Linked DNA regions of Homo sapiens. The protein of the gene in region 1 interacts with the protein of each later gene in a pairwise test. Each region holds a gene or a part of one and is shown on either strand. Other genes may lie near its edges.

Region 1 (11,237 bases):
AAAGAGCAGACTGTTAATTTTGGTGAAGCCCAATTATCAATTTGTTCTTTGAAGAATGATCCTGGCCGGGCACGGTGGCTCATGCCTGTAATCCCAGCACTTTGGGAGGCCAAGACAGGCGGATTGCCTGAGGTCAGGAGTTCGTGACCAGCCTGGCCAACAAATTTAAACCCCATCTCTACCAAAAAATAAGAAAATTAGCTGGGCGTGGTGGCGGGCGCCTATAATCCCAGCTACTTGGGAGGCTGAGGCAGGAGAATTGCTTGAACCCAGGAGGTGGAGGTTGCAGTGAGCTGAGATTGCGCCATTGTACTCCAACCTGGGTGACAAGAAACTCTGTCTCAAAAAAAAAAAAAAAAAAAAAAAGATCCTTTTGGTGCTGTATCTAAGAAATTTTTGCATGACCTGAGGTCACAAAGATATCCTCCTTTCTTTCTTCTAGAAGTTTTACTTTAAATCTGTAATCCATTTTGAGTTACTTATTATGGATTAAAATTCATTTTTTGGTATATGGGCATCTAATTGCTTCAGCACCGTTTGTTGCAAAGACTATCCTTTTCCCACTCAATTGCCTTTGCATCTTTGTAAAAACCCAGATATTCATATGTTGATCTATTTCTGTGCTCTCTATACTGTTCTACTGATCTGTTTCTCTATATTCATACCAATACCACACTATTTTGGTTACTGTAGCTTTTTTTTTTTTTTTTTGAGAGAGGGTCTTCTTCTATTGCCCAGGCTGGAGTGCAGTGGCACGATCTTGGCTCACTGCAACCTCCACCTCCTGGGTTCAAGTGATCCTCCCTCCTCAGCCTCCCAAGTAGCTGGACTACAGGTCCATGCCACCACATCCAGCTTTTTTTTTTTTTTTTTTTTTTGTAGAGACAGAGTTTTGCCAATTCTCCTGCCTTGGCAGGGTAGGTAAATTTCCAAAAGAGTTACTTGTACATAAATTATACTCATCAAAGAGACAGGATATTCCTAGCATTCTGGAATTCCCAGGACTCCAGAACCATCCTAAAATTTCTACCTATATGACCTCAATACAGGTATGTTTGGGTTCACCTGGCACTGTGTGAGTTCTATTCTTTTCCATGAAATGGCGACTGAGAGACATTATCAGCAATGTAAACAAAAGTAAAACCCAGTTTGATTCTTGGCTATTACTATAGTTGGCAATGAATGTGTCCTGAATGCAGGTATCAAGTAGGATCATATATTCAGTCTGCTAAATACCAGTTTTCTCACTGACCTGTTAAAAATTGACTGATGACTAGTATCAGGCCTATAACTGTACTTTTAAGTTGATTAAACTATTTCAGAAATCTTCATATTAATATACATACACTACACTTCTCTATTGTTATCAATAAAAAGTGTAGTTTCCACATACAAATTTCTGATTATGTGGTGCATTTTTGAAAAATCCAGGCCTTAAACCAACCACCTACTGTTCTTTCTTTTGAGACGGGGTCTTACTCTGTTGCCTAGACTGGAGTGCAGTGGTGTGATCACAGCTCACTGCAGGCTTGACCTCCTAGGCTCAAGCAGTTCTCCCACCTCAGCCTTTCATTTAGCTGGGATTACAGGCACATACCACCATGCCTGGCTAATATTTTTAGTTTTTGAAGAGATAGGGTCTCACTATGTTGCCCAGGCTGGTCTTGAACTCCTAGGCTCAAGCAATCCTCCCATCTCAGCCTCTCAAAGTGCTAGGATTACAGGCATGACCCACCATGTCCGGCCACTGATGTTCTTAATTAATTAATATGTTCAGTCAAAGAACATTTATTTAGTGTCTTCCAGGGTCTGGGGTTATGAAGAAGGTAAGGCAAAAGGATCTTAAAATAGGCAAAGTTAGTAATTATAAAATTAATATCTACTATAGTTACACTAGTTTTTGTATCAAATTTACAGTATAGTTCAGATTTAGTTTGGCAGCATTTATATTTTGAACAGTTTACAGTATAGTGGTGCCTATTTTACTGCACATGAAGCATAATTTTATTATGTCTCTATCATTATGGAGTTTATAGTTGTTTCTTTGCTGTTATGACTCGGGAACACAATGAGTAATTATAAACACTATTCTAATGGAAAAAATCTGATCTGGTTGAGGTTACGTTTTCCCGGAATGCACTATGGTGAAAGGGATGGCTACTTAAAAGAACAGTAAACTTCTATATTATGCTTATCTAATTAGTGAATTAGAAATAAGAATGTTCAAGATCAAGGTATATGTCTGAATCATTCTGAATACAACGGTCAGGTGTCTTTTCTCCTGCTTTTGCAACAAGGCAGATGGAAAATAAAACACACTAAAATGTTTGAAAGTGATTACTGCATACCTGGTGTTCTTTATTAAACTTCCCTAAGATGTCTGATGATAAACTGAAGATAAGCACAGGGTTCTTCACACTGTAGTATTTATGAGCTTTCCACGGTAGTATTTTTTTGACAGGTTTTGGTCTCTTTTTAAAGAAAGAATATATTTTAAAAAACCTAAAATGGTATTACAAAAGGAAAATGTTACAATCTCACAAAGAAACATATTTATGTAATAAGAATAAGGTTTTGAAGCAGTTTTAATTAATATATATATATTCCCTTGTATTATGGATTGGTGTGGTCTTGGCTCACTGCAACCTCTGCCTCCCAGGTTCAAGCAATTCTCCTGCCTCAGCCTCCTGAGTAGCTGGGATTACAGGCGCCCGCCACCATGCCCGGCTAATTTTTTTGTATTTTTAGTACAGACGGGGTTTTACCATGTTGGCCAGGCTGGTCTCAAACTCCTGACCTCAAGTGATCTACTCACCTTGGCCTCCCAAAGTGCTGGGATTACAGGTGTGAGCTACTGCACCTGGCCACAGGCGGCTTTTTCTCTATGAAAGTGAATCACCTGTTGGCAGTTGATTGGGAAATTCTTGGATGTGATTATCAAACAGTGATGTTGAAGTAAGATTTGAAGGAGCCATACACAGCAGTGCCTTTTCAAGTTTTTGGCAGAAAAGATCTTGTGGCTCACCTGCCTGCTCTTTCTTTCCAGTACAGAGTTGAACATAAATAATTAAAGTTTTTGGATTATGTGTTTCTTGCCTGTCAACAATAAAAATAACAAAAAGACGACCCTCTTGGTAGCTAATTGTAAGCACTGGATTGTATTTTAGAAGCAGAGACAGTGACTGATTTAGTATTATATACTAAAATGTATTCTGGTTCCATACTTTCATGAATTATCAGATTCTTGGTTAATAATACAACTAGAAAATCCTAATTCTTAAAAGTAAATATTTTGTTACACGCATATAATGAAAAAAATTCAGTAGTAAATTTATAATTAATTCATAAGGATAATTTAATTCAAATGATTACATCTGTGTTTCTGGCTGAAATTATTCTATGGGTAGGTAATTACATACATATTTTTTGAGATGGAGTCTCACTGTGTCATCCAGGCTGGAGTGCAGTGGTGTTAGCTCAGCTCACTGCAGTCTCGACCTCCTGGGCTCACGCGATCCTCCTGCCTCAGCTTTTCAAGTAGCTGGGACTACAGGCATGTGTCACCATGCCCAACTAATTTTTTTATTTTTGCAGAGACGGGATTTTACTATGTTGCCCAGGCTGGTCTAGAACTCCTAGACTCAAGTGATCCACCTGCCTTGGCCTCCCAAAGTGCTGGGATTACAGGCATGATCCGGGCCACAGCACCCGGCCAGTAATTATATTCTTAACCAGTCCTGCCTCTTGGGAAAAAAAACTTACTCAGCATGCAAATTTTCCCTCTTTTCTTATCCATTCTCAACATTTCCTATTGCCTTCCCCATTTCATTTTTTCTCTTTAACACATACTATCTAACCTAACACCCATTTTACTTCCTCAGCCTGTTTGTAGCCTGGCTTCCCCACTAACTGCATGCTTCACAAGGCATGCATTCTGGCTCCTTTGTCTATTGCTATATCCTCAGTGCCTAGAGGAGTTCCTGAGAATATTAAGTGTCCAATAAATATTGATCAAATAAATTAATGTTCCGGATGCCTCTGTGCTTAATTCCTCTCTTCATATCCATTACTCCTGAAAAAACTTCTCATTACTGCTAACCCAATCTGAAAAGCTCCAAATGAAAGCTTTCCCAATGTGATAAATACCTATCTCAAACAAAAAAACAGCTTTAAGCTTAATGGTGAAACATTAATTTACACTGATGTAAGAATTAAGATAAGAAATGCCTACTATCACTGTTGTTCATTAATATTGTTCTGGAGGTACTAGGTCTAAATATTGGAAAAGAAGAGGCAAGTTATTATGTGGAAATGAAATGAAATGATTATATACTTATAAAACACTATCAAGAGAATTAAATTGACACCATAGGTTACAAAATGGCTATAAAATTAATCTTTTTTTTGAGACAGGGTCTCACTCCACTGCCCAGACTGGAGTGCAGTAGCGTGATCACAGCTCACTGCAGCCTCAACCTCCTGGGTTCAGGTGATCCTCCCACCTCAGTCTCCCGGGTAGCTGGGACTACAGGCACGTGCCACCATGCCTGGCCAAGTTTTTGTAGAGATGGGATTTCACCATGTTGCCCAGGCTAGTCTCAAACTCCTTGGCTCAAGAAATCTGCCCACTTTGGCCTCCCAAAGTGCTGGAATTATAGGTGTGCCTGGCCCTAAAAATAATCTTTCCTCTATGCAAAATAAAACGACTTAGAAAATAGATGAAACATACCCCACTTACTATATCCAAATATTTAAAACATCTAAGTTTACTACGAATAATATGAAGGAAACTTTAAAACTACTGAAATAAAATATTTAAGTGAAGGACACATTTTGTTCTTATATCAAAAGGACACAGATTATAAAGCTGTAAATTCTCCCTAATTTAATCTACATGATCAATGTATTCTCAATGAAATACTGAGTAATTTTGTGAAATTTGACCAAACGATACAAAATTCACATAGAGAAATAAATATGAAAGAATACAAAGAAATATGAACAAAAATGATGAGAAGGGACTACTTTGATCAGATACTGAGATAGAAAACTACAGTCACTAAAATAGCCTGATACTAATGCTTTGACAGAACAATATTCTGGAATAAAGAGTTCAGAAACAGAAACACAAACAAATACATATGGTAACCTAGTCTAAGATAAAGGTAGAGAAAGTGGACTTCAGTAAATGATGAGAGGTAGGCTAGAATCTACCTGGAAATCAAAACAAAAGCAGATTCTTATTGCATTTCTTACACTAAAATGACGGTTAGATGGGTTCAAAATGTAAATGTTTAAAAAATTATTAAAAGAAAACACAGAGTGTGGAAAAACATAAAGCCTAGAACCATAAAGGAAACAACTGATAAAAATAACTGCATAAAAATATAAAACTTCCTTATAATTAAAAAAATAATAAAGTTCAAAGGCATCTTACAAACTGGAAAAAAGATTTTCAATACATATGACAAAGACCTAATTTCCTTAATTTGCAGAGACCTCTTAAAATAATCCATTAGTAAAATGGGCAAAAGATATGAATGCATTACAGCATAAACACATTACAGAAACACAGAAAACCAAGAGTTATATAAAAAGATGTTCGAACTTACTCATAATGAAATGCAAATTAGATTCCGCTTTTCATCTACCAGAATGGCAAAAATTAAAGAATCAGATAAAACATATTATTGTTATTATAACTGTGATGAATACTGATAATGCATATTATAAAAAATAAAGCATATCTGTGTATGTGTAGATATGTAAAGTTCTCTAAGATACGTTCATTTTCCAATCAATGTCTACATGTAAAATAGAGTTAAATTCTCATTTTTAAGATTTAAGACTTTCATTTGGTACAGTGGTAGGCTGAATAATGGTCCCCTAAGGATGTCCATGTCCTAATCCCTAGAACCTGTGTTACTATATATAGCAAAAGGGACTTTGCAGATGTGATCAGTTTCAGGTCTTGAGGTGGGAAGATTATCTTGAGTTATCCCAGATTATCCATGTGGACCTAATGTAATCACATGGGCCTGTCTAAGAAGGACACAGGAGGGGTCAGAGTGAGAAGGCTCTGTGATCACAGAAGCAGAGTCAGAGGGAGAAGACACGACGCTGCTGGCTTTCAAGATGGAAGAAGGGGTCACATGCCACAGAATACAGGCTTTTCTAGAAGTTAGAAAAGGGAAGGGAATGATCCTCCCTTGGATCCTCTAGAAGGAATCAGTCCTGCTGACATCCTAACTTTAGCCCCTTAAGACTCATTTCAGACTTCTGACCTCCAGAGCTGTAAGAAAATAAATTTGTTTGAAGCCACTGAGTTTGTGGTAATTTGTTATAGCAGCAATACAGAACTAATACAGGTACCTTGAAAAACATCACAAATTAAAATGAGACTAAAAGCAGGCTATTAAATGCAAATGAATTGCACTGTTATAAATTTCAAGAAGTCAGAGAAGATGGTGAGTTCAAACGTTTTGGGGAAATATCTTAATTGTTCCAGAAACCAGCTTGCTTTACCTTGCCTTGGACTATATCTAGGAACAAGATGACCAACCTGAGATAGCTGGTGGGATTGTTTGCTTTGGAAAAATGAGCTGGAGAAAACAGCCGACCCTCTCATAAGCACTCCATGAAGACTTTTTTTTAAAGCAGGTGGCTTTCCTGCAGAGGCAGTGGCAGAAGCATGGCTGAAGGCTGAGAAAGCAGAGTGAAGTAGTTGTAAGGGGGAGGAGTGACAAAGAGGCGTCAGGTAGCTGGCAAAGTTAGGAAATTAATTAGAGCTAACAAATTAACTGAGGACATAAGTAAATATATTTAGAATCATGGGGTCAAATTTCTTACTGTCTGAAAGAGGGAAGGCTGGAAAGAACCCTGAAATGTTGGATTAGAATGAGAAATGCTAGGTTCAAATACACACACATACACACACAAGGAGTTATATACAGTTACAGATCTATGTGCATATATATCTATAAATGTATGTGTATGTGTATATACATATGTATGTATATGTGTGCGTGTATTTTTCCCCTAACTCTGCTGAGAGGGCCTAGAATCAACGACACCCCAGAAACAATGAGTACACTGTGTACCATTCTCCACTAAATACCATTCTCTGCTATAATGAATTGGGGTTCCTTGGAGAAATGGATGATCCTAAGCCTGAGGCAGGCAAAGAGAAGAAAGGCTGGTGTGTATCAAAAGGGCACAGGAGCCAGCTTTAAGAAGCTCCCACTAGTCAAAGATAGGGCAATTTGAACATCAATACCAATAAGGAGGATACATCAGCCTGAGCAACACAGGGAGATGCCATCTCTATAAAAAACAAAACAAAACAAATTAGCTGGGTGTGGTGGTACACACCTATGGTCCCAGCTACTTGGGAGGCTGAGGCTGCAGTGAATTTGATCATGCCAACACTGCACTCCAGCCCGGACAAGAGTGAGACCCTGTCTCAAAAAAAAACAAAACAAAATGGGATTTACCACGTCAGAGTATCTCTTCCCAAAGCACTAATCAAATGCAAAGGGAAAACAGGTGGCTGTGGAGAAAACTGGCAGATTTGTGCTTGAACAGGTAATCAAGGTTCATGTCACCAGGGTGGGACAGGTGACATTCACTAGTGTCCATGGGCACTTGAGAAGATCACAGCACCACTTCTGTGGTCTTTCTGCCACAAGCACAGCCTGTCTGGTTAGAAAAAAACATCAGCCAGACCCAAGTTCAGGGTCTTCCTATTGAATGAAAGGCTTAAACTCTAAACTCTTTGACAAAAATGTTAAATGAACAGAAAAGCTCTTCTCTAAGCTTATAAATGTGGTATTATATAGCTAAGATAATCAATATCTTACGGTTTTCAAGAACATTATTTCAAACACTTTATCTACTTTTATGTGTCCCAATTTTTTGCTTCAGAAATTTTGCGAGTCACTCTAAACATTGACAAAGGGAGGTTATGATTCTTAACACTGATTGGCCTGGCGTGGTGGCTCACACCTGTAATCCCAGCACTTTGGGAGGCTGAGGTGGGCAGATCACTTGGGCCCGGGAGTTTGAGAGCAGCCTGGGCAACATGGTGAGACCCTGTTCCTAAAAAAAAATTAGCCGGGTGTGACAGTCCCAGCCACTCAGGAGGCTGAGCCCAGGAAGTCAAGGCCGCAGTGATGCAGTGAGCTGTGATCGCACAACTACATTCCAGCCTGAGGGATGGAGTGGGACCCTGTTTCAAAACCAAAAAAAACCAAACGAACAAAACACTGATTGAGAGGCAGTATACTGTGGAAGAAAAAAGGTATGTTCCCAGTTCTGCCAATACAACTAGCTATTAGGCCTCAAATGTCTAAGGCAAGAAATTAGGTGATTTCTCAGTGACATATAAGGTCCAGTCTAGCACTAAAATCCATAAATGAAATATACCTATATATATAAGCAATTTCAAGTTTATTTGATAACATGAAAATGTGCCACGTTCAAAGTTTGGATGGTTACAGACTAGCTATGCTATGTAGGTTTTGGTAATTTAACAACTTTATATATTTTAGAACAAATGTTTGAATTCACTACCCGACTGACACCCTAGTCACCTTCAGGATAAGAACCCGTGCCTCTCTACTTCCACCAAGTGGTGGCAAGTGCAATGTACTGCACTGAGTAAAGGGCTACAAATCTTTACACAAGTACCCGTTTTTAGCTACCCTGACACAACATTCTTTTTAATTTTCAGTGTTTGCCTGATTATTTTTACTAGATTTTCATTCTATTTTAATAGAATTGTATTAAAACACACGGCGCTTAGTATCTCTTACATATTAGAATGTTCATTTCATTCATTCTTTCAGCACCCATTTGAGTGCTTACTATGTGCCAGGCACTATGTGGGGTGTGGAGATACAATGATGAACACAAACAGCAAATGTTTCTATTTTTGTGGGCCTTATGTCAGTAATGAACTAATCATAATAGTGACTGTCCAGAGTGTCTTCAAGGAAGGAGATACAACTCTGTGAAGATAAAGAAACCTGATCCTGACAGCGATCAGGGAAGTTATCCCTGTAGAAGTACTGTCTGAGTTGAGATAGGAAGGGTCAGTGGGAACTAATTAGGCAAGAGAGGATGAGAGGGAGGAGGGAAAAACAATGCAGACAGAGAGGAAAGAATGCCAAGGCCTGGTGGGTGGAGGAGGCCCATGTGGCTGAAGCCCAGTGAGAAGGGCCAGCGGTTTCAGATGAGTCTTGAGACGCAGGCGGGGGTGAACAGCTGCAGGGCCTTCGGAAGGCGTGTTTATGATGTGGATCATTAATCCAAGGGCAATGGGAAGCTAACTGTAGGCAAAAGAGGGAGGCGGGAGGGGTGGCATAATCAGCTCTGCCTTCTGAAGGTTACTCTGGCTGCAGGGTGAAGAATCGAGAAAAGCCAGAGGGAATGTGGGGAGACAAGCTGGTACAGGACTGCGGCAGGCTGAATGAAGGTGGTGGTTTGCACTTGGGTGTCCACGACAATGAAGAGATGTGAAAGATGCCCAGGAGACAACCTCACCTGGGCTTAAGGATTCACTGGGTGTTGGGGTGTGATAAGGGTCAAGGAGGAATCCTAGGTACAACGGAAGAGGTTCCAGCTGGGGTTGGGAAGTGGGGTTGTTTGGTTTTGTGCATGTTGAATTGGAGGAGACTGAGTGGTATTAAGAAACACTGTCACGCAGCTAGCTGAACGTACGAGTCTAGCTGAGAAAGGGTCAAGTTGGAGAAAGGTAGGAGTCAAGAGCACAGGGCTGGAACTTAAAAGCTGTGCGTGTGAATCTGTGCCTTGTGCTAGATGAAGGGGCGCAATGGAGAATAAAATGGGAACAGATGCCGAGCTTTGAGAATCTCCAATATTAAGGAGCCTGGGAGAGGAGGGTGAGCCAGAATGGCAGCAGGAAAAGCAGAAGAGTCAGGGATGGTCACAGAAGCCAAGGGAAGACAGTGTTTGTAGAGTGAAATGGGGGCAGCAGTTTCAGATGCCGCTGAGAGATTGAGCAAGACAAAGCCTGAAAAAGTCTCATTCCTGGTTTTTGTTTTAGCAGAGATGAAGAGGGAAGCCATACTGGCTGAGGAGTGAGAGACAAATAATAGAGGCATTGAATATGGCAGTTCTTTAAAGTTTGCCTGTCGAAAGGGATAAGGGATTGGACAATAACTGGAAACTGAAGGGGAACGTGGGGTCAAAGAAGATTCTTTTTTTCTCTTTTGTGATGGGAGACTTGAACATGCTTCAAAACCATGGCAAAGAGCCAGCTGAGATGGAACAGGTGATCATACAGGAGAGGGAATGTATACCTGACAGGGTAGAGTTTTTGGCGAGTGGAAAGCGATGGGATCCAAAGCACGGAGAGGGAGTGGCCTTGGTTAGGAGGAGGAAGGAAGGTAGGAACAGATATAAGTAAGGCTTGCAGTTTTGGGAGCTGAAGAATGAGGGGATTCCCATGTGACAGCTTCAAGCTTCTCTATGAAGTGACAGCACAAGGGCGTGGTGGGAGATCAAATCTGAGGAAAATGGTCATTTATGAAATGCAATCTCCTACAGACCCTCAGCTAACCGTGGCAATCCTACTCTGTTACTTTGGTTAATTGGGGTTTTACCTGATGGCAAAAGAGAAAAGATGGGGCTAGGAGTTTAAGAGAGTGGCAAGGGTAGGGCCGGGCGCAGTGGCTCACGCCTTTAATCCCAGCACTTTGGAAGGCCGAGGCAGGCAGATTACCTGAGGTCAGGAGTTTGAGACCAGCCTGGCCAACATGGTGAAACCCCATCTCTACTAAAAATACAAAAATTAGCTGGGCATGGTGGCGTACACCTGTAATCCCAGCTACTCAGGCCGAGGCAGGAGAATTGCTTGAGCCCAGAGATGGAGGTTGCAGTGAGCCGAGATCTTGCCACTGCACTCCAGCCTGGCCGACAGAGTAAGGCTCTGTCTTAAAAAAAAAAAAAACAACAAAAAAAGAGAGATTGGCTAGGGGCCTTAGCTCCTTGAGGGCAGGGACCTGTCACATTGATCGCGGTATCAGCACCCAGGTACTTACTATTCAAAATGATCAGCATACGGATGATCATTTGTCTGCATCTCAGTTTGCCTCTTTTGGTGCTTCTCTAAAAAATAAAAAAGGAAGAGCTTAAACTCCTACATGATTCCTGTCTTTGCGCTGGGAAGAAGGCTCTGGGTTCTTTTGTTCTTCAGGACAGTCCCTTGTAAAGCT
Region 2 (11,237 bases), on another chromosome or scaffold:
TCCAGCCCAGTGGAGACAGGAGATGGCCCTGCTGATGCCAGCCTGGGCTGCACCAGCCCACAGTGAGTTTGGGCAGAGAAGCCCCTAGCCCAGTTCCCACCCAGCCAGTGGGCATGGTGCCCTGGTCAGCCCCATAGCACTTGGCCTGGCTGTGGGGGGATTTGTTAGGGCCAGGAAGCTTTTCAGGGCTGTGGGGAGAGCGGACTGCCTAGGAGGGCTGCCTTCCTGCTGCTCCCAAGGGTTTGCTGTTCTCTCTGCTATGCTACCTCTCGTGGCCACAAACAAGACTCAGTTCCACGGAGGCCCCAGCTGGCAGCTGGGACTGCTGGAAAGGACTGTGACCCATGACAGGGCCATGAGGCCCGGTCTTCCTTTCCACAGGATGCAGCCATGAAGCTGTGGTCAGCAGATCATAGGGCCATTTTAGCAGAATCTGTAAGTTGTGGTGGTGACTTTGATCTCAGCCTTGACCTTGGCTGCACTGCCATAGCTTGGCACCAGCAGTGTGCAGCACTTAGGCGGGCAAGCCCTGTTATCTCCAACAGTGGTGCTGCCTGCTCCTAGCTGAACTGCAGACCTCTGTGGAAGGGACTTTAGCTCAGGAGTGTCACCCCTGAACCTCCTCACCCTTGAAACAAGTGGTGTGGAGAGGAGGACACATATCCTGAAGGGTGCCTAGGAGTCAGCAGCTGGCATGGAGGAGTGGTGTCCAGAAGCCAGCGGCAGTGCCCATCTAATGGCTGTGTTGATGCATGCCATGCTGTTATGGGCCCTTGTACACTGGGCCCCACTGAGGACTTAGGAAACAAATGCGAATGTTTCCTCTGTCTTCGCCAAAAATGGGGAAAACGGAAAGGCAGGCCTATCAGAACTAGCACTGTGGGTGCTGTGGTTTAGGCTGCAGGAATTAGGGAGAGATCAGTTCAATCAGCATGCTCGTTCCAGACCCCTGGGTTCCATGCCACTGAGGCCAGCCTCCTGACCCTTGTCCGAGGCACCTGGTCCCCAGCATGCCCTCAGTACTCTAGCACACAAAGGTATAGTTCTTCCAGAAAGAGTGGCCTTTGGGGAACCAGCCCATGTTCCATGAGATGAATGTCCAGGGGTCATGCAGGGTTATTGACACCATCACAGGAAGGGGTTTAGGAAATTATTATTCTGGGGCTGGAAATTGTAAGTGACTGTTGGAGGTTCCATGCCCCACTGGATGGCTGTGCTTCCCCTGTGTCCTTTACCCATGGACCAGCCAGCTCTGGGCTTGGCAAGACACTGGCCCCATCTCACTCACCTGCTCATAGATGGTTTTCATCAACTCCACGAAGCTCTCCAGGCTTTTTAACTTGGTTTCCAGTTCAGTCCGATGAAGACACTCTGCATCCAGGTCCTGGGGTTGGCAGCAGTGGTGAGTGGTGGGAGAGGGAATGGAGGGTCCCAGGGCAGGAGTGGGCTGGGGGGCTGCCTCCTGGGTGAGAGTGGGGGTGATTCCAGAGGAGATCTGGCTCAGAGCCTCGAAAAAGGAGCTGGATGGGGATGGGGGTATCTCCCTGTCTGTCTGTTGGTCCTGGGACTTAAGCCTCTGAGGGCTTTGATTGGGCATAAAGGAGAGTAGGATATCTGGAGGGAAAGAGGGCCCAGGGCCCATGAGGAAGGAGCCCCTGGGGCAGGCTGGGCAGGCTACCTTCTTCAGCTGAACAAAGGTGAACTCCATGTCTGTGCGCTTGGAGATCTCATCCTCATACCTGGGAGGGAGAGAGGGGTTGCTCAGCTGGATATGGTGGGGGCTTGGGCCTGGTGAACTCCCCTTGGTTGGGGCTCAGGGCCTGTGCTATCCCACTTGGGGTCTCTTTGCCAATTAAAGAAAAGCAGCCCATCCTTCTCCCTCTTGCATCTTCTATGACACATCCTCTCTCTCTCCCCCCGACCTCCTGGCATTGGCTCCCCGTTCCTCACTCCCTCCTGATGACACAGTCCTCTCCCAGTGGCTTCTGCCCTTTCCTGGCTCTGCTCCACACCCACTCCCCTCCAGGAGGCCTCCCTGATTGTGCAGCCCCTCACCCTGGCACTTTATCCCCTCATCTTTACCTGACCTCCTTCCCTGGCAATCTCAGGTTCACTCAAGTCCGCTGGGAGCATCTTGCTCACACCTCACCTCTCCCACCTCCATGCCTTCCCTGCAGCCCCAGCCACCACCCCTCTGCTTTGCGAGCCAGTAGGACACCATCCCATTGTATTCCCTCCAAAGGGAGGCTGGAAAGAGTGTGAACTTTGCTGTCAGAGGGACCCCCAGTGTGTTTTTGGGCAAGTTGCATCACCCCTCCTCTCTTGGCTTCCTGCCTCTAAGGGGTAGGCATGTGCCCACGTGTACAGGGGGCTGACAAACCCACCCCTGACGCAGTTGACAGCCAGCTACAGGCCGCATAGGCCATACTCAACAAAGCTCAATAACGCTCTTCTCAGTTTGGACTTCTTACTCGCTCCCACCTTGGGTTTGGAACAAGGACACCGTTGGGTGGGGAGGACAGGACCCCCAGATCCCTGGCCCGACCCTCTTCCTCAAGTCAAGACATTTGTTTGTCTTAGCCCCAGGGTGGGTGTCTGCTGGCTCCAGACTTCTCGCTGGCCCCAGCTGCTGTGGGGATTCAGCAGCTTCTGTTTTTTTCCCTCCTATTCGGGGAATGCCTGAATCACTGGCGGCTCTAATTACAGCCGCCTGCCTACCTCAGGCCCTAGCCTCCCAGCAGGGCTGCGTCACTCATCACCCATTGAGCTGGCTATATCTGGCGCCCCTCATGCCTTCTTCTTTCCCACCAGCCCACCTGAGGAGCTGAGGGGCGTGGACCCAATGGCAGGGCACGTGGGTTTCTGGTCTCAGTGTACCAGGGGCCCACACCCTCCCTGGCCACTGCCTTGGCTGCCAAGAGTCTGTTAGGGGCTTTGATGGTACAGGTCCTGGGGGTGGGGCAGAGGAGCAGGCCGGGGAGAACGTTCTGCTGTCTAGGCATCCCCAGAGAGAACTAAATTGGACTTGAGTGGGGAATAACAGGTGCTGAGTGCTTCACCTGCACTCTCTCTGGTGGTCCTCAGAGCACCCAGCTAGGGAAGTCCCATTGGTCTCATTTTACAGATGAGGAAATGGAGGCTCAAGGAAGGACTGGGGGCTCCTGGAGTGTGCTGATGAAGCAAGGGGACCAGAGCCAGGCTACTTGGGCTGAAATCCTGGCTTCCTTGCTAACCAGCTGTGTCCTGGGGTGAGTTCCTGTGTGCCTCAGCCACGATTATAGTGATGCTGTGACGATTAAATGGGGGCAATTCACAGAGTGCTTGCAGCGGGGGACAGCACCTGCTGGGGCTCAGCCCCTCTGCTTCGGCCTCAGGAAGCCTCTTGGCACAGCACAGGTGCCTCTCTGCCACTCACCCTGCCTAGGGGAACATAAGTAGGGTGAGTTGAGGGAGACAGCTGGCCTGGCAGCTGCCCTGGGAAACCCCCTCTGGCAGAGAAGGACACCAGGAGTCAGGGGACTGGAGGGAGCATCCTCACGGTATCCTGGCTAGGCCAGGTCTGCCTTGACCCTGGACCTCTAGGTGTGCTTTGTGGGTGGGGTGGGAATAAGCCCTGAGCCCCAGGGGAGAGGACCGAGGGGAACGCTGGGCTGCGGCTGGACACTGGGTTCCAGTCTGCAGCCAGTCCCCTTAAGACCAATACTGTTTCATCTCCAGCCTTTGTGCCAGTTAGAAAAAAGCCCCCTTCCTCACGGGCTGTTTGACCTGGTACCCTGCATGGCCTGATGCTTGTTTGGATTTCAGTCCCTATCCACCGCCTGAATCATGCACACTTGTGCAGCGCACAGTTTGCACAGCTGTATGTGGCATCCCTGAGTCACTTGCTGTGTGGCCTTGGGCAAGTTGCTTCCCCTTGCTGGGCCTCTGCTTTGTTCTTAGTAAATAGAGGGCTAGACTGCTGATCCTTGGGGTTTCTGCTACCTCAAAGCCTTCGGAAGTCTCCATCCCCATAGAGGCTTAGGTCCCCTATTCCACTCCCAATCCTCTGCCAGTCTGTCAGCCACCAGCTCCCAAACCCATTCTCAGGCATTTTTTAGCTTGTCACACCTGCACCACCATCCCCACCCCCGCAACTTGTTTATTTCTGGGAGTGAGGCTGATCTCATCGGCTCCGTAGAGACAGGGCACAGCCCTTCCCTACTGGGGCTTGGCCTGGCGTCTCCTGGCTCCTGGGGGCCCTAGGCTCTGCACAGTCAGGCTGTAGCTCCCCTGGCTCTGGCCTGAAGACCGAGAAGCCCTCCAGCCAGGCTGTTTGCCCAGTCTCTCCTTCCCAACTCGGGTGGGTTCCCTACCCAGAGAGAGGAAGAGAGGCTCAGCCTAAGCAGTAGAGTCAGGTAGCAGGCGGATAGAAACCAGGCGGCAGGCCAAATGAGGGGGCTGAGCCAGATTAAAACAACAGGTAGTGTGTGTATAGAACTTCCAGTTACAAAGTGCTTCCATGGACGTGATCTGGCGGAGCTCGTGGGAGCAGCCTTACCCAGTGGCTGGCTGGGGTTAGGGATGGGACTTAGCATGCAAGGCTGTGTAACTGAGGACAAGCCCTGCCCTTTCAGGGCCTGTTTCCTTCCCTGTAAAAGGAGGATCCAGGGCTCCCTCTGGCTCTGGCATTCTCTGAGCCTTTGAGGGCCAAAGATCTACTGGGGATCAGGAAAGTGGGTCACAGATTCTGGTGAGCTGCCCCGACTGCCCGGTCATGGTCAGGTACTAGGAAGCTGGGTCTCTCCGGAGGGGCGGTCAGATGCCCTGTGTGTGTTTCCCTAGGCCTGGGAGGGCAGGGCTGGGGAGAGGCGATGGGTAAACTCAGCTACAGCCCAGGTCTCTGGACTCCTGGACAGGACAGGTGCTCTCCACTCTCCAGCCTGCCTGGACGGCTGCTCTGGAGGTTGTGGGTCTCACCTCAGATTGGCAGGGTTTGGGGCTGGGCCGCAGCACTGCAGGAGGGGAGACCAAGGGTTCAGCCTGCCCTGTCCTCCCCTCACGCTGGCTGGAGGTCTCCTTGCAAGGAGACCAGACCCAAGGAGGTCGGTGCAGGGCACAGCCACTCTCCTCTGCCCCAGGCTCCTTGTTCCTGAAGCCCTGCCCACTACCTGACCACAGAGGGTCACCTCTCCTCTAAGCAGCCCGAGTGACCAGCCTTCCCTTTTAGACTGGCCAATTCAGTTCAGCAAACCTGTGTCAAAGACCTGCTGTGTGCTGAGAACTTCAGCCTTTTAGGGATAGAAAAGCTGCCATTTATAACTGCCAGTCACCATGCCACACTCTCAACTTCCTCCTCAGGTTAGATACCTACTTTAGATTGGCATCAACCATAATCATTCCCGTTTCACACAGGAAGAAACTGAGGTTCAGATATTAAGCCACTTACTGGAGGTCACAAAGCTAGTGATGGGTGATGATGAAGATTAAACCTCATTCTGGGCTAATGCCCAAGCCTGGGCCCATAAATGCTGGGATATACTGCCCAGCAACTGTTTGTCTGTCTGTCTGTCTGCCCCACTAAGTTGTAAAGGCACCTTGCATACTGGGGCTGTTTTCCTTATCTGTCTCTTTCCAAGTCTACCTTGATGTCTGGCATGCATTGCTTCTTTATTCAAATCAAACCCATTCTTTCCATCCCCTTCCTGCTTCCTGGTGGCTTTCCTCTCCTTTCCAACCCAGTCGAGATCAAAATCTAAAGCCACATCTAAAACAGAAACCCATCTGTTCTAGCTAGTGACGTAATTTCCCATTGCCAGAGCAACATGTGGACAAGAGCAAGTGTGTCCATAGGTACAAGAGGACGGCTGCTCGAGGCAGGGGGTGCGGGTTATGATGATGCCCAAGGGCCAGCAGGCACAGGGTTTAGCTGGGAGCCAGCACAAGATTGACTTTGTTTTAAGGGTTGCTATTAGGGAGGGGGCGGCTGTAGGTTCACAGCCATATCCTCAGTATTTAGAATACTGCCTGGCACATACCAGTCCCTCAATAAATGTCTCAGGTAAAGAAATGTTGCAGAACATCTTTCCTCTTTCTCTGGCTTAAGTGCCTCCCATCTGAGCACAGCTTGGTCCCAGCCCTCAGGCCTTGCTCATGGCTCTCATGGGGCTCTACGTACCTGATTCGAAACTCCTCAACCTTCTCCAGCACCTGCAGCAGGTTGGCCTCCAGCTGCCCCCGCTCCTGGCTCACTTTGCGCAGTTCCTCCTGCAGCCGGCCCTGATATTCCTCATAGAGATGCCCGAGGTCGAAGATGGCTGAGTCCTGGCCCTGCAGGAAGCTCCAGCGTGTCTCCAGCAGCTGGTTGCGCTGTTCCAGGGCTTGCACCTGGGAGAGCAGGAAGGCGGCGAATGGGTCAGGTGTGGACCAGTCGGGGGCTGAGGCCCCGGGCTGACCAGCAAGAGCCCACGGAGGGCTCCCTGGGAAGTGGCAGCTCATTTATGCACACCACCCAGGGCGCTCACTCAGCAGAAAGCACCTCCAATGACTGATTGTTAAAACTGAAGATGGTGAGATAAGGACAGGATCAGAGCAAGGTGGAGCCAATTAGCAAAGGTTTCCAGGCGAGGGCAGGGCAGGGCTGGCAGAGGAAGGGGGTAAGAGGGTGTGAGAGTGCCAAGCATGCGACAGGCTCTCCATGCCTGCCTGGGGCTGGGGCGGGAGACCCCAGGGAACATGGGGTGTCAGAGGCCTATCTGCCCCCTTGCCACCACGACAAGTGTGGTCCCATCTTGTCCTGGAAACTCAGCAGGGTAGGGCCTGGTTAGTACTGTCCTTAAGTGCTCATCCTCTCGATGACAGAGGCTCCCTGAACCTCAGTTTCCCCAGCTAGAAGTTAGGAATGATAACACCTGCCTGCGCGGTCCTCTCCTTCCCTCCACCCTGTCCAGCCGAGCTCAGCCTGGGGCTCTCCCTGCCTCCTCCCCACCCTGCCTGTCCTCTCTATTCTCCTTCCCATCACCAGGCCCTCTGCTCTCCCCATTTGTTCTTCCAGCTCCCTCCTGCAGGAAGCTCTCTGTGACTCAGGTTGAAAGACTTCCCTCTTCCCTCCAGCACTGAGGCCTTCAGTTTAGCTGCTCCTCCTTTGTCCTGAGCCACTACTCTCCCCATGAGACTGTGGGGACACCTGGGGATGTGCTTTGGGATACGACAACAGCAGGTGCTCATGTGGCCCCTGCTGTGTGCCAGGCCTTGCTCTACATGCTTGACCCATGAAATCCCTGCAGCACCCCCATGGGTGGGTACTATTATAAGCTGTATTTTACAGATGAGGAAACCAGAGGTGATGGAACTTGCCCAAGGTCACAAAATTAGCAAGTGGCAGAGCCAGGCCTGGAATCCAGGAACTTTGGGTTTAGAACCTTTTAACCACTATGACACATGCGTCCTGTGTGTTGCTGGTCACTGTGGGCCCTGGGATCCCAGCTACCCTTCATGGGCTGGCTTCTGCCTCCAGTTAGGGACAGTTTTGCCTCGAGGTGAAACCCTGGGAGGGCTCTGAGCCCAGCTGCGCCTCTCAGACTCTGCCTACCATATGCCTCTTGCTGGGAGGGTCCTGCGCAGTCCTCTCCTTCCTTCTACCCAGTCCAGCCCAGCTCAGCTTGGGGCTCCCCCTGCCTCCCTCCTCCCCACCCTGGCTGTCCTCTCTACTCTCCTTCCCATCACCAGGTCCTCCTCTCCTCCCCATTTGTTCTTCCAGCTCCCTCCTGCAGGAAGCCCTCCATGACTCATATCTTGAAAGGCCCCCAGTTTACCTGTTTCTCATTTGTCCTGACCCACCACTTTCCCCATCACACTGGGAGCCATCTGCTCCCCCTTGGGGCCTCTCCTCCCTTGGTGCCAGGGATAGGCCATGAGGGCAGGCCATGAGGTTGGAGGCCTGGTTGGGGCCTGGCTCCCGTCAGTGTGGGTTGTTTGTCATGAGGATGTTTTGATAACCAGCCCAGTGATGCTCCCTATGGTCACAGGTGAGTAGCTGGGCCTTCTCCCACCACTGCCGGTGCTGCTGGCCCAGGCTCCCAGAATCGTAGCCTGCGAGAGCTGCCAGCAGCCTTTTGGATCAGCTGAGCTGGGCCCTTCATTTGCAGAGGAGGCAATGGAGGCCAGGGGTGTCAAGTGACTTCTCCAGGGTCACAAAGCAACTCGGTGGCCCAGCTTCCCAGAGAGCCCCATCTGATGGCCACTGCCCTCTCTGCACCTTCGTAGGCTCCCGAACGGTCAGGTGGGGCCAGCCCCTCTCTCTCTGCTCTGCTTCTTCAGGGTGTCCTTGTTTTTCCTGAAGTGCTCTGACGACCCTTCGACATTCACAGCAGACAACGCCAGCAGGAATACTGGATGATGGCGTTTGACGGTATTTGCGGGCTGCCATTCCCCTGCATATCTGTACTGGTAGGTTCTGCTTGAAGCCAACCTTAATCCTGCTCTCTGCTGTACTCACAGCCAAACAGGTTCAGTAGGGATGGAGGTCAAGAGGGTTTCTGCCCTGCCTTGTGAGTGTGAGAGGGAGCGTTGGGGGGGCAGGTATCTGCTCACCCCACCTTGCCTCCGTTTTGACAAGCAGGAGCCCCATGTTTACACTGAGGGTGGAGTGAGAGGAGAGATGTGAGGCTCCTTCCTCCACCCATGAGCAGCAGAGAAATCTTCACACCAGGAAGTTCTTCCTACAGTCTAACCTCAATTCCCTATGCTTCAGCACTAGCTCGCTGGGACATGGTGTGCGTTTGGCCGGCCAGTCCAGCTAGAAGGCATCTGTGGTCTTAGGGGATCAGGGACAGCCCCCTGTTTTCTGCTGCCCTTGGGGGAGTCTCTGGTTGTCTCAGTGGGCGGGGATGGAAATTCATTCCCCACTTGGGACCTTCCTTGCAGAAAGGCTCCTCCCTCTCAGAACAAGGACCTGGGGAGGGCTCATAATCCTGGTGCCCTGAGAGGTGCCAGGTTAATTGCCTCCAACCCAGGAAGACTGCCGAGCCTTCACCTCTGATTCCTCCTCTCTGTTCTGCCTGGCCCTCTGCCCTTAGATCATACAGTAGCAGCTGTAGCAGGGACCTCTCCATTTTACAGATGAAGAAACTGAAGCCCAGTTGAAAAGTAGGGCCAGGTTGGGGCTGAGGTTAGGGGAGAGGCATGTTGTTTTGTGGGGGAAACCGAGCAGCCTAAACTGGAACTCCTGGAGGGAGACAGGCCGGACATCCCAGAGGCTGCAGGTCTTACAGGGGAGTGCCTCTGGGCCACACAGGTAGTGTTCCTTAGCGGGGGCTGTTGAATCCCCGGCCTTCAGCCAGACATTGGCTTTAGCCAGGGAGCCTCAAAGACTCACGAGCAGTGGCTGGTTTGTGCTTTTCTGCATACAGGCAGGGGGAAGGCTGACTTCAGCTCTTCCAGAGGTCACACAGGCCTCGGTGAAGACATTGTCTCCATCCCTCTGTCTCCATCCCTCTGTCTCCAGGCATTTTACCACTGCTCATAGGTTCCCTCTCTACAGCCTCCCCAGGATGAGCTCAGGCAGTCCTGCCTCTTGCCTCTCTCTCCATCCCCTCTGTTGTCTGTGTGTGCGTGAAGGCAAGAAGCCCAGCCAGCAGCCTCTGCTGGAGGTCGGCCTTGCGCCCTCCCTGCCTCCCCTGGCCTCTCCTGCTGCTACTGCTTCTCCTCATCCCCCTTCATCTCATGACTGTTGCCTTACCAGTCCTTCCACTGGGACGAGCTCAGGACCACCGGCAGAGCAGAGCAGTGGAATCTGGGGCGCAGAGAGGGTAAATGACTTGCCCAGGAAAACGCAGCCAGCAAGTGGAAGAAACCACAGTGTTCCAGGGCCTCTACCACCTCCTGAGAGTCTCTGCTCCTCCTGAGTGCTCCCAGGTTCCTCTCAGTTCCTCAGAGGGCCCCCACCCCTCTCCTCTCTTTACCCAGAGCCCCCACCCACTGGTCATGGCGTCTCACCCCTGGGCCTTCCTCTGGGTCCATAATTGCTCAACAGCCCTGCGCCGTACCTCCTGCCCATGAGTCCCTTCACTCCTCTATCCGGCAGGGAGCCTCTCCCCACCTGCTCTCCAGGCTCCTGCCTGGAAGGGGCTAACTGGGTTCTAGCTGCTCCCTGGGCCAGGCCCATTTATTTCATTTTTTATTTAACAGTTATAATATACTTAATATATACCAGATATGTTCTAAATTCTTTTCAAAAATTCTCCCATTTGATTCTAATGAGCCTGCTAACCTAATGTGTGCTGAGGCACAGAGAGGTTAAATAACCTGCCTGAGACAACACAGCTGGTCAGTAGTGGACCGGGATTTAAACCCCACAATGCTGCTCCAGATTTCACATCTTAACCACTTCCTGCTTCCATGTGGGCCCTCACAGCCTCCACAAGGAGGCAAGGAGGGTGGGGCTAACAGATCTTTGCAGAGTTGAAGGGTCAGCTGGGGCCCCTTGGGGCCCTGCAACCAGGGCCCCCAAACGGCCAGTACCCACAGCTCCCTGTGTCCCACCCTGAAGGGCACCCCATCTCAAGGTCAAGGCTAAGGGTTGGGAGGCTCCAATTCTGCTAAAGAACTTCAAGGGCATTGCCCTGGTCTCTGGGCACAGGACCCCAACCCTGAGGGCCTCTTCCCTGTGCTTATATCCTCCCATCCCCATGGCAGGGGCACAGGGTGATATCAGTGCTGGCGTTTGAGGGAGAAAACCACCCATCTGAGCCAAATTCCATAGCTCAGTGAAGCATTCCTTCTAAGGGATTAAACTGGGTTTGGTCAGGAGGTGGCTCTTTAGGGACCTGCCTCCCCAGGGCAGCTGGGCTGCTCTTAGAGGGAGAACCAGCTCAGCAATGCAAGGCTCTGTGCAGTTAGGGCTGGGGGAAGGGATGCTCTGCCTCAGTGGACTGTGGTCCTTCCCCTCTGGGTACCCAGGGGTACCCCAGGTGTGGATGATGAAACTCTGGTCTAGGCACATGAATGGAAGAAGGAAAGAAAAGATTCCCACCACAGAGACCACTGACTTCGTGTCTCAACAGACCTGAGTTCAAATCCAGACTACCATTTGCTGGTTGTGTGATCTTGGGCAAGGCACTTAGCCTTGCTGGTCCTCAGTTTCCTCATCTGCACAGTTGGGAAAATAACAGCCACTGCAGGGTGGCAGTGTGGCTTGAATTTCATTGCATTTGCAATGTTCCTCCAGAGGGCAAGGCATAAGTAGATGCTCAATGCATGTT

Evidence for each region.
Region 2: the proteins of LCA5L (region 1) and KRT80 interact in binary tests that used the Homo sapiens proteins (3 or more experiments, as listed by UniProt).

Annotation. Positions count from the first base shown.
Region 1 is NC_000021.9:39,433,072-39,444,308, forward strand, and holds part of LCA5L (lebercilin-like protein), read right to left. Parts: intron 11,131-11,237; 5' UTR 11,064-11,130; intron 6,703-11,063; exon of another isoform or gene 6,563-6,702; intron 5,648-6,562; exon of another isoform or gene 5,613-5,647; intron 3,097-5,612; exon of another isoform or gene 3,026-3,096; intron 2,503-3,025; 5' UTR 2,349-2,502; intron 1-2,348.
Region 2 is NC_000012.12:52,179,225-52,190,461, forward strand, and holds part of KRT80 (keratin, type II cytoskeletal 80), read right to left. Parts: intron 6,526-11,237; exon of another isoform or gene 6,475-6,525; coding exon of another isoform or gene 6,364-6,474; coding exon 6,155-6,363; intron 1,740-6,154; coding exon 1,679-1,739; coding exon of another isoform or gene 1,385-1,678; coding exon 1,289-1,384; intron 1-1,288.